Linked DNA regions of Homo sapiens. The protein of the gene in region 3 purifies or fractionates together with the protein of the main gene of each other region. This does not show direct contact. Each region holds a gene or a part of one and is shown on either strand. Other genes may lie near its edges.

Region 1 (2,893 bases), on a different chromosome or scaffold from region 3:
CTGGTGGGCAGGTCCACAGGGGGGGCTGCCCTGTCCCCTAGGCCTCCGTCCCCAGGGCTGCCAGGGGCTCCCCCGCCCCCACCCCTGAGCACCATCCCCATCTCGCAGCTCCTCTGAGGAGTCAGAGAAGAACCTGAGGAACCTGGCAGAAGACGAGGCCCACGCCTGTGCCATCCTGATCAAATGAGGTGCTGCAGGGGTGGGGCCCTGGTCCTCACCACTGGTGACGTCCACCCCCTTCAGCCCGTCTGGGTACCATTTGGCCCTGGTCTTCTACCTGAGACCCTGGCAGGCCCATGTGATGGCACTCTCTGAAACCTGGCTGCCTTCCATGGAGTGCCTCAATTGGGGACTTCTGGTGCTCACACAGACACCAGTGTCATGGTTGGGTATTAGAAAAGCAGGGCCAGCCCCTCAGCCCTTGCATGTGACAGGTGGTGGTTAGGACAAGACCAGATTTGTTTTGTTTTGTTTTGTTTTGTTTTGTTTTTGAGACGGAGTCTTGCTCTGTCGCCCAGGCTGGAGTGCAGTGGCGTGATCTTGGCTCACTGCAACCTCTGCCTCCTGGGTTCATGCCATTCTCCTGCCTCAGCCTCCTGAGCAGCTGGGACTACAGGCGCCCGCCACCACACCCAGCTAATTTTTTGTGTTTTTAGTAGAGACGGGGTTTCACTGTGTTAGCCAGGATGGTCTCGATCTCCTGACCTCATGATCCACCCGCCTCGGCCTCCCTAAGTCCTGGGATTACAGGCGTGAGCCACCGCACCCGGCCAACAAGACCAGATTAAACCACTTAGAGGTGGCAGTAGTTTGGGGCTTGGGAGCTGGTTTGGCCAGCCTGTTTCATAGATGAGATCACTGAGGTGCACGAGGTCAGGTCTCATCGGTTGGGCCCAGCAAGTGGCTGACTTACCCCTGCCTGAGTCTGTGGATCCTCACCTAGATGTGGGGCCCATAGATCTGCCCAGCGCATTTGCTGCCTCATGTTCCCAGGCACCTGACTGTAGGCCATAGCCTCACCCTGCACAGGACATGGACACCTCCCAGCTCTTTGTCTGGTGCCTCTCCCTGGCCTCAGTGGGGCATATGTGGCCTGGCGCTTGGATACCCATCTGGAGACTCAGCAAGCCCATCTCAGGTGGTCACTGAAGGGCCATGCCTGCCCTGCAGAGGAGACAGTGGCAGCACCTGTGTGGTCTGGCCGCTGTGGCAATCCATCTGCCCTTTTGCCCTCCCTCACCTTCTGCTGATACCTCTTCTCTCCCTCTTCCAGGAAGGCCAGAACTATCCCGACCTCCACCTGCCCTGCTCGGAGCTGGAGTGCTGGATCCCTGGCACCTGCCTGGCCCCTTAACATAGAACCACGCCTGCTAACCTGTAGGCTCCACTGGGACCTGCTGTCCTGTCCCGCCTGACCCTGGGCCCTGGAGCAGCACCAGCCCCAGGGTGTGGGCCTGGGACCTGGGCCAGAACTGAGCCCTCCTGCAGGCATTTGGCTGCCCTGGGGGCCCACTGCCTAGGGAAGAGGACAGGTGGGGCCCAGCACCTGTGCCACCTCCCCCCCTCCACACACCATCCTTCCCCCTCACTTTGCAGAGTATTTTTCCTTTTTTTTTTTTTTCTTAAAGACGGAGTCTTGCTCTGTCGCCCAGGCTGGAGTGCAGTGGCCCCATCTCTGCTCACTGCAAGCCCCGCCTTCTGGGTTCCCGCCATTCTTCTGCCTCAGCCTCCCAAGTAGCTGGGACTACAGGCGCCCACCACCACGCCCAGCTAATTTTTTCTGTATTTTTAGTAGAGATGGGGTTTCACCATGTTAGCCAGGATGGTCTCGATCTCCTGACCTCGTGATCCACCCACCTCAGCCTCCCAAAGTGCTGGGATTACAGGCGTGAGCCACCATGCCCAGCCCTGCAAAGAGTATTTTTCTAGCGCCTGGGCTGGACAGTTGTTTCTAAAACTAAACTATTTTGGTACCTGCTTCTGGGCCAGTCCCCAGCCTGTCATGAGTGTGTGTGTGCGGGCATGGATGTGACTGGGAGCTCTGCTGGGCACCCACATCTGGGGCCTAGTCAGGTGTGTGTGTCCGGCGGGGGGGGGGGGCAGGGGGGGGGGTCAAGATGAGTTTCCCTGTAGATTGTACCTTGGGGTTTTTTTCTGTCGTTTTGTTAAAATTAGCGCCATTTTAATATTAAAAATACTGATTTTTAATATTGAAAATAAAAGCATTTAATATCTCTTAAAGGGCATCCACATCTGCTTTATCCCTAGCGGAAGAGTGAGGGGGCTTCACACGTGCACTCACACTGTGGAGAGAGTTGGATTTCCCAGACCCCTGAGGGCACCTGTCAGGGTCATCCCCATTGGTGCTGCTTGAGGCTACTGGGGACTGTGGCACTGGACGTGGCTGGAGCAGGTGGTGTCACCTGAGTACATTCTTTGCTAGCAGACAGTGGATGAGGCCCCTTCCTCTTCCTCACCAAGCCTGGGGCTGTGCCAGCCTGTCTTAGGCCAGGGCCTTGCAGAAGGCGCTCCAGGCGTGGAAGCAGCGGGTAAAGGCGTGCTGCTCATTGCCCTTGCGGACCAGGCGCAGCCGGCGCGGCCGCTCATGTTCCTTGGACCGCATGTGCTGGATATATACCTGGCAAGGGGACAGCGAGCCTTGGGTGATGACCCTGCCCTGCCCACAGGCCCACCTCGGCCCTCCCTCCACCCAGATTACCTGGCAGGCCTTCAGGCTCAGCTTGATCTCCACCTGGCTAGTCTGGGTCCCCACCCACATGTAGACCTGTGGGGGCAGCAGGGGAGATACGGTTGCATGGGTGCCTGGGAACAGCCCCTTGCTCCTGGCCCGAGAATTCCCATTTGTAAGTAAGTCTATGGGCGCCTCCTTGGA
Region 2 (3,752 bases), on a different chromosome or scaffold from region 3:
TGTTGTCCAGGCTGGTCTTGAATTCCTGGACTCAAGCAATCCTACTTCCTTGGTCTCCCAAAGTGCTGGGATTACAGGCACAGGCTATTGTGCCTGGCCAAGAAGTACATTTTATATTGTGATCCAGTATGCACATGTGCATGCATATGCACACCTGAAACATTGCAGAAAACAATACTGTTATCTCTTGTTGCATTACAATTACTTCAGAACTTACTGGATTTGAAAAACAAACATCTCAGATTTCATGAAGAGTGTGTTGGGTGATTCTGGCTCAGGGTATGTAGTGATTTTATTTCATTTAAAACAAACAAGAAAACAAGCTTGGTTGCAGCTTATCAAGCTGATTTCACAACCTACTATTGGGTCATAATTCTAAGTTTGAAAAACACTGACTGGGGACTGTTACCGTTTGGCTGTGTCCCCAGCAATCTCATCTTGAATTGTAGTTCCCATAATCCCTACATGTTGTGGAGGGACCTGGTGGTAGCTGAATCGTGGGGTCGGTTACCCCATGCTGTTCTGATAGTGAGTGCTCACGAGATCGATTTTATTTTTTCTTTTTTGAGACAGAGTCTTGCTCTGTCACCCAGGCTTGAGTGCAGTGGCATAATCTTGGGTCACTGAAACCTTTGCCTCCTGGGTTCAAGTGAGCACGTCTGGGTAATATTTGTATTTTTAGTAGAGATAGGGTTTCACCATGTTGGCCAGGCTGGTCTTGAACTCCTGACCTCAAGTGATCCACTGACCTTGGCCTCCCAAAGTGTTGGGATTACAGGCGTTAGCCACCGCGCCCAGCCTAGATCTGATGGTTTTGTAAGGGGCTCTTCCCCCTTTGCTTGGCACTTCTTCCTGCCGCCATGTGAAGAAGGATGTGTTTGCTTCCCCTTCTGCCATGATTGTAAGCTTCTTGAGGCCTCCCCAGCCCTGCAGAACTGTGAGTCAATTAAACCTCTTTCTTTTATAAATTACCCAGTCTTATGGGTAGTTCTACATAGAGCTTGAGAATGGACTAATACAGGACTCTGAGGCTAGAGGCAGGCAGTCAGGTTAGAAAGTTGTTTTAATTCAGGTAGGATAGGATGGCATAAACCAAGGTAATAATTGTGGGAATGGAGGAAGAGGATCAATTTAAGAGGTACCTAGAAATCAAAGCAACAGGAATTGTATTGTTTTGATAATATGTGTGTATATGGAGTATGAAGATTTTGGGAGGACTCTCAGGCTCTGGCTTGAGCAGCTGATGTTATTCATGTGAATAGATGTTGTCCACTACCATGTTCTTTTTTTGATTTTTTTTTTTTCCCCTGCAGCAGCAGGTTTGGTTTTGGAATGGGGAGACCTTGATACGGAGTTCAGTTTGGGGGCATGGTGTATTTGAGGTGCATGTGAGGAGTATAAGTGAAGATGTCCAGAAGTGGGATACATAGTTTTGATTCTCAAAGGAGAAGTAAAAAAGTACTGGAGAAGTAGTGAATTTGGAGTCTTTGTTGTACATATGTTATTTTAAGCTGGTGGAGGCAGGGAGAAAGGATTTCTTAAGGATGATATTGTAGTGTGAGAATAACATAGGGATGAAGATCAGAAACATTTAAGGGAGGAACGAACAAAGAAGGAGGAGGGTTAGAAGAAAAGAGCATATGATATAAAGAAACCAAGAGAGGAGAGTGTCAAAAAATTGGGAGTGCTTAAGAAACAAGATGTATTATAGACAGAAGTTAAAAAGGCATTAGAGAGGAAAAGTGTTCATTAACTAAGGTTTCTCTGGAGAAGCCAGAGGGAATGGGGACTAAAGTACCCTGTGGAAGGATTAGCTGTAGCCCACTTCCATCAGAATAGAGGAAGTTAAGGATGGTTGTTGCTGTCAATGAACATGTGGAGAGAGAAAGTTGAGATAGTTCCTGTTTGATTTCTTTGTTTCTCTCTTATGTAGGAGATGAGATACGTAAATTTGATAGGGCTGCTGTAAGAAAGTACCATCAGCTGGGCACGGTGGCTCACGCCTGTAATCCCAGTACTTTGGGAGGCTGAGGCAGGCGAATCCGTTGGGCCCAGGAGTTCGAGACCAGACTGGGCAACATGGTGAAACCCCACCTCTACCAAAAATACAAAAATTAGCTGGGTGTGCTGATGCTCGCCTGTAGTCTCAGCTACTCGGGTGGCTGAGGTGGGAGAAGTGCTTGAGCCTGGGAGGTTGAGGCCACGGTGAGCTGTGATTGTACCACTGCACTCCAGCCTGGGTGACAGAGGAGACCTTGTCTCAACAAACAAAAACACAAAACATCTCCCGCCTCTCCACCCCGCTCCCCCCACAGGTTTGAAACCACCTGCCTGTTATTTCAAACCACCTGTGTGTTCACATTTTTGAGGACTTTTAACCTGTTTGACCAGAATAGATACTGTCTTTAGAATCTCATTTTTGACAATATGATTTACTTGGTACTGTTTTCAATGAAGAAACACTTATAAGAATCAATTTACATAACAATGGATTTTGGGAAAATATTGTTTAATATGCTGAAGCCTGTTGTTACTTGACCTAAGCCAATGCTTTGAAATGATGCTAGGAAATCAGAGAGATCTAGTTTAGATCTATATTGTCTTTGAAAGAAGTCTATAAAGTTGATAGCTATAGTTTAGTGGGTTCTGCATCCACAGCTCAAACCACCTGTGGACCAAAAATATTTGGGAAAGAATCTTAAAGTCACCTTGAAAAAAAAAGTGGAAAAAAAAAAAAAAAGAAAATACTTGGGAAAAAATAATACAACATGGAAAAATAATACAAATAAAAAACACAATAAGTATAACAACGATTTACATAGCATCTACATTTTATTAAGTATTATAAGTAATTTAGAGATGATTTAAAGTATGCTGGAGGATATCCATAGGTTTTATGCAATTACTGTGTCATTTTGAATCAGGGACTTGAGCATCCTGGGATTTTTGTTGTCTGGGGCAGTCTTGGATATCTGGATACGTTCTACTGGAGCCAGTCCCCAGCAGATACCAAGGGACAACTGCCTGTGGTTTTAAAATTTGTTTTAGTTATACTTGTAGAGTATGAACATGTTTTCTTTTTTGAAAAAAAAATTCAGGTGCTTTATGGTAGTTTGAGTGTAAAGCTTTCTAAGTTGAGCTAAAGCCTCCACAAACATTTTTCCCCTTTATAACACAAGTTTCCTTCCCTCTAATTATCGCTGTTTCAAAATTGGCATTTCCCGTGTAGGAATTCTTTACATACTCTGTTTACAGATCATTATACTTATGTTCACTGTATTTTTCACCTAGCTTTTGGTTTATCTTTTAATTTTATTTACAGCATTTTTTGGTATAATACTTTGTCATTTTGACATAATTAAGTGTGTTGGTTGTTTTTCTTTATGGTTTTTGCTTCTGGTTTTTTATTTAAGAAGCCTTTTCCTAACTCAAGTTCACAAGGATATTCTTCAAAATTTTCTTCTAGTACTTTTAATGGCTTAAAAAATTTATATCTTTAATGTATATGGAATTTATTTTGGTGTACTATGTGAAGACGAGTATACGTTATGTTTCTCAAAGAGCAACAAGTATTTAAACTTCATTTATTGAGTGATTTTTCATTTCCTCACTGTATTAGTCTGTTCTCATGTTGCTAATACAGACATACCCGAGACTAGGTAATTTAAAAAGGAAAGTTTTTTTTTTTTTTTTTTTTTGAGACGGAGTCTCGCTCTTGTCACCCAGGCTGGAGTGCAGTGGCGCGATCTCGG
Region 3 (3,752 bases):
GCAACACAGTGAGACCCTGTCTATAATTTTTTTTTAATTAACTGGGTGTGGTGGTATGCATCTATAGCTCTAGTTACTTGGGAGGCTGAGGGCAAAGTATTGCTTGAGCACTGGAGTTTGAGGCAGCAGTGAGCTATTATGGTGCCACTGCACTCCAACCTGGGTGACAGGGCAAGACCCCATCTCAAAAAAAAAAAAAAAAAAGAAAAAAAAAAGGCTTTTTTCCCCAGCTGGTATTCACTGCAAGTCAGGAAACAATCATTGTTACTGATAATGACTGACTTGATTCTCTCTGGTGTATCTGAGGGATATCTAACATCTCTTTTTATTTACAGAGGAGTTATTAGAGCCCAGAGGCTGACTTAATTTAATGTGTCTACCCTAGAGTATTTCCAGTGGACTTCAGCTGATAAGTTGAAGTTATCTTCAGCTGATAAGAGAAAAACAATTTGAAAGTTATTCTCTTGTAATGTGTTATCCATACATGCATGTAACACTGATGATTTTCTTTATTAGGTTATGGTAACATAACAAACTAGCAGCAGGAGCAGTCATGGTTTTGTAATAAAAGTTATCTGAAAAAGTCTGTTACTGGTGGAGGGTGTCCAGGTTCTTGGCGTTTTGGACAAAAAATTGGACAAAACACATAAACAAAGCAAGGAAACAATGAAACAACAAAAGCAGAGATTTACTGAAAATGAAAGTACACTCCACAGTGGGGAGCGGGCCTGAGCATAGGGGCTCAAGGGCCCTGTTACAGAATTTCTGAAGGTTTAAATACCCTCTAGAGGATTCCACTGGTTACTTGGTGTACACCCTATGTAAATGAAGAGAATGAAGTAAAGTTACAAACTCATTTACTCAGCATACACCCTATGGAGAGGATCTTTCCTGTTATAGCTAAAGTGTGAATCAGCCTTATGTTCCCTGCCTCCAGACCCTATTTTCCTGCCTCAAATCTCTAATACTTGATTTTGATGATTTAACTGTTGATCCCAATGCAAATATAAAAGACTTTGTAAAGCATAGACTATACTATATATTAATTCAAGGAATGTCAGGGCATGTACTGATGTTGAATTCTGAGAATCATGTGCTTTTGTACAGAACAAAGTCTGTTTGTTGAAATATTTTGAGTTAAAATACTCCCTAAAACTCCTTAATAAAGGGAATTACATAATCTGTTAATTGATTTGTGGAACGGCAGTGAAAGAGGCTGTATTAGACGACTTGAAAACACTCATATTTGGAGCTTAACGAAAATACTCCTGCTCTCCAGAGATGAAATGTTAGTGAGAGCAGCAAATAATTTATTTTTATATGCTGGATTTGCGTATTTGAGACCATCTATTAATACTGTTCTTTAGGACCTCAACCTAGTCGTCTAAGACATCCTTATTAAACGAGACCAATAGATATCATTTAATATTGAAAATATTGTTAATGCCCTTCAAAATCTTTCGAAGGAATAAACATTAAAAACTAGAAATTCTTTGTAAAATTTTGCGGTTTAAAATAATACTCGGTTTCAAATTAGTGGGTGCCTCATTTATCATAAATTATAAAAGAGAATCTAACAGTTATTGGCTACATTCTAGGCACGGGGTAACGCTTTACTATTCTTCTAACCAAAAACATACATGTATCTAAGTATCCCATGTAAGGTATCATTGAACCACACAAAACCCTATGAAATACTGGCAGGGGGCGGTGGCTCACGCCTGTAATCCCAGCACATTGAGAGGCCGAGGCAGGAGGATAATTTGAGCCCTCAGGAGTTCAAGACCAGCCTGGGCAACAGTCTCTTCACCATCAAATCCAGGAGAATTAATTTCTACTGTTAGAGCAGTCAACTAAAGGACAGCTCGCGATATTACACAAACTACTACTCCCAACATGCAAAGCGGTTTCTTTCCCTCTGTCCCCGCCCGGCCGTCCGAGAGCCCCAGCAGGCCTCGGGGCGCGAAAGGCAACCTGGGAGCAGTAGTTCTCCCGGGCGCCTAGCGGGATCGCCAGCGCGGCAGTGGGGGCTTCCGCGGCTGCAAGCCAGCGGGTCCTGTGAGGGCGAGCGGAGGCGGAGAAAGGGCGCGGGAGTGAGAGAGGGTGAGTCAGCCACTGTCTATGCAATAAAGGGAGGCCTCACCGCGGGATAGGGCTGAATTCAGAAGTGCGGCCCGTGCCGCAGTCTGTTCCAGGACGCGGCTTGTCTTAGCGTCAGCGAGGGAAGGTTGAGGAGGAGCCAGAGCCTGGTCCTGCAGCCTTTCTCGCCGTCAGCGCCCGTCGCCATCTCCACCATGCAGTCCCGGGAAGACGTCCCGCGCTCTCGCCGCCTCGCCAGTCCCCGTGGTGGGAGGCGGCCCAAGAGGATTTCCAAGCCCTCGGTTTCGGCCTTTTTCACGGGTCCAGAGGAGTTAAAGGACACGGCCCATTCTGCAGCCCTGCTGGCACAGCTCAAGTCCTTCTACGACGCGCGGCTGCTGTGTGATGTGACCATCGAGGTGGTGACGCCTGGCAGCGGGCCTGGCACGGGTCGCCTCTTTTCCTGCAATCGCAACGTGCTAGCAGCTGCGTGTCCCTACTTCAAGAGCATGTTCACAGGTGGCATGTACGAGAGCCAGCAGGCCAGCGTGACCATGCACGATGTGGACGCCGAGTCCTTCGAGGTGTTGGTCGACTACTGCTACACGGGTCGTGTGTCTCTCAGTGAGGCCAATGTGCAGCGCCTGTACGCGGCCTCCGACATGCTACAGCTGGAATATGTGCGGGAAGCCTGTGCCTCCTTCTTAGCCCGACGTCTTGACCTGACCAACTGCACCGCCATCCTCAAGTTTGCAGACGCCTTCGACCATCACAAGCTTCGATCTCAGGCCCAGTCCTACATAGCTCACAACTTCAAGCAGCTCAGCCGAATGGGTTCAATTCGGGAGGAGACTCTAGCAGATCTAACCCTGGCCCAGCTGCTGGCTGTCCTACGCCTGGATAGTCTGGACATAGAGAGTGAGCGGACTGTATGCCATGTAGCTGTGCAGTGGCTGGAGGCTGCTGCCAAAGAGCGGGGTCCCAGTGCTGCAGAAGTCTTCAAGTGCGTGCGCTGGATGCACTTCACTGAAGAAGATCAGGACTACTTAGAAGGGCTGCTGACCAAGCCCATCGTGAAGAAGTACTGCCTGGACGTTATTGAAGGGGCCCTGCAGATGCGCTATGGTGACCTGTTGTACAAGTCTCTGGTGCCAGTGCCAAACAGCAGCAGCAGCAGTAGCAGCAGCAACTCTCTTGTATCTGCAGCAGAAAATCCACCCCAGAGACTGGGTATGTGTGCCAAGGAGATGGTGATCTTCTTTGGACATCCTAGAGATCCCTTTCTCTGCTATGACCCTTACTCGGGGGACATTTACACAATGCCATCCCCTTTGACCAGCTTTGCTCACACTAAGACTGTCACCTCCTCAGCTGTCTGTGTGTCCCCAGACCATGACATCTATCTAGCTGCTCAGCCCAGGAAAGACCTCTGGGTGTATAAACCAGCTCAGAATAGTTGGCAGCAACTTGCAGATCGCTTGCTGTGTCGTGAGGGCATGGATGTGGCATATCTCAATGGCTACATCTACATTTTGGGGGGACGAGACCCTATTACTGGAGTTAAGTTGAAGGAAGTGGAATGCTACAGTGTTCAGAGAAACCAGTGGGCATTGGTGGCTCCTGTCCCTCATTCCTTCTATTCCTTTGAACTCATAGTGGTTCAGAACTATCTT

Evidence for each region.
Region 1: the proteins of KBTBD7 (region 3) and LLGL1 purify together in Homo sapiens (co-immunoprecipitation; 5 studies listed by BioGRID and IntAct, with this or other methods). This does not show direct contact.
Region 2: the proteins of KBTBD7 (region 3) and ERC1 purify together in Homo sapiens (co-immunoprecipitation; 5 studies listed by BioGRID and IntAct, with this or other methods). This does not show direct contact.

The regions. Positions count from the first base shown.
Region 1 is NC_000017.11:18,242,635-18,245,527, forward strand, and holds the end of LLGL1 (lethal(2) giant larvae protein homolog 1), read left to right. Parts: intron 1-108; coding exon 109-187; 3' UTR 188-188; intron 189-1,273; coding exon of another isoform or gene 1,274-1,415; 3' UTR 1,416-2,241; downstream 2,242-2,893. Other genes in the region: FLII (protein flightless-1 homolog), read right to left, coding at 2,504-2,785. UniProt on the Homo sapiens protein: Cortical cytoskeleton protein found in a complex involved in maintaining cell polarity and epithelial integrity. Involved in the regulation of mitotic spindle orientation, proliferation, differentiation and tissue organization of neuroepithelial cells.
Region 2 is NC_000012.12:1,022,118-1,025,869, forward strand, and holds part of ERC1 (ELKS/Rab6-interacting/CAST family member 1), read left to right. Parts: intron 1-3,752. UniProt on the Homo sapiens protein: Regulatory subunit of the IKK complex. Probably recruits IkappaBalpha/NFKBIA to the complex. May be involved in the organization of the cytomatrix at the nerve terminals active zone (CAZ) which regulates neurotransmitter release.
Region 3 is NC_000013.11:41,192,800-41,196,551, reverse strand, and holds the start of KBTBD7 (kelch repeat and BTB domain-containing protein 7), read left to right. Parts: upstream 1-1,982; 5' UTR 1,983-2,294; coding exon 2,295-3,752. UniProt on the Homo sapiens protein: As part of the CUL3(KBTBD6/7) E3 ubiquitin ligase complex functions as a substrate adapter for the RAC1 guanine exchange factor (GEF) TIAM1, mediating its 'Lys-48' ubiquitination and proteasomal degradation.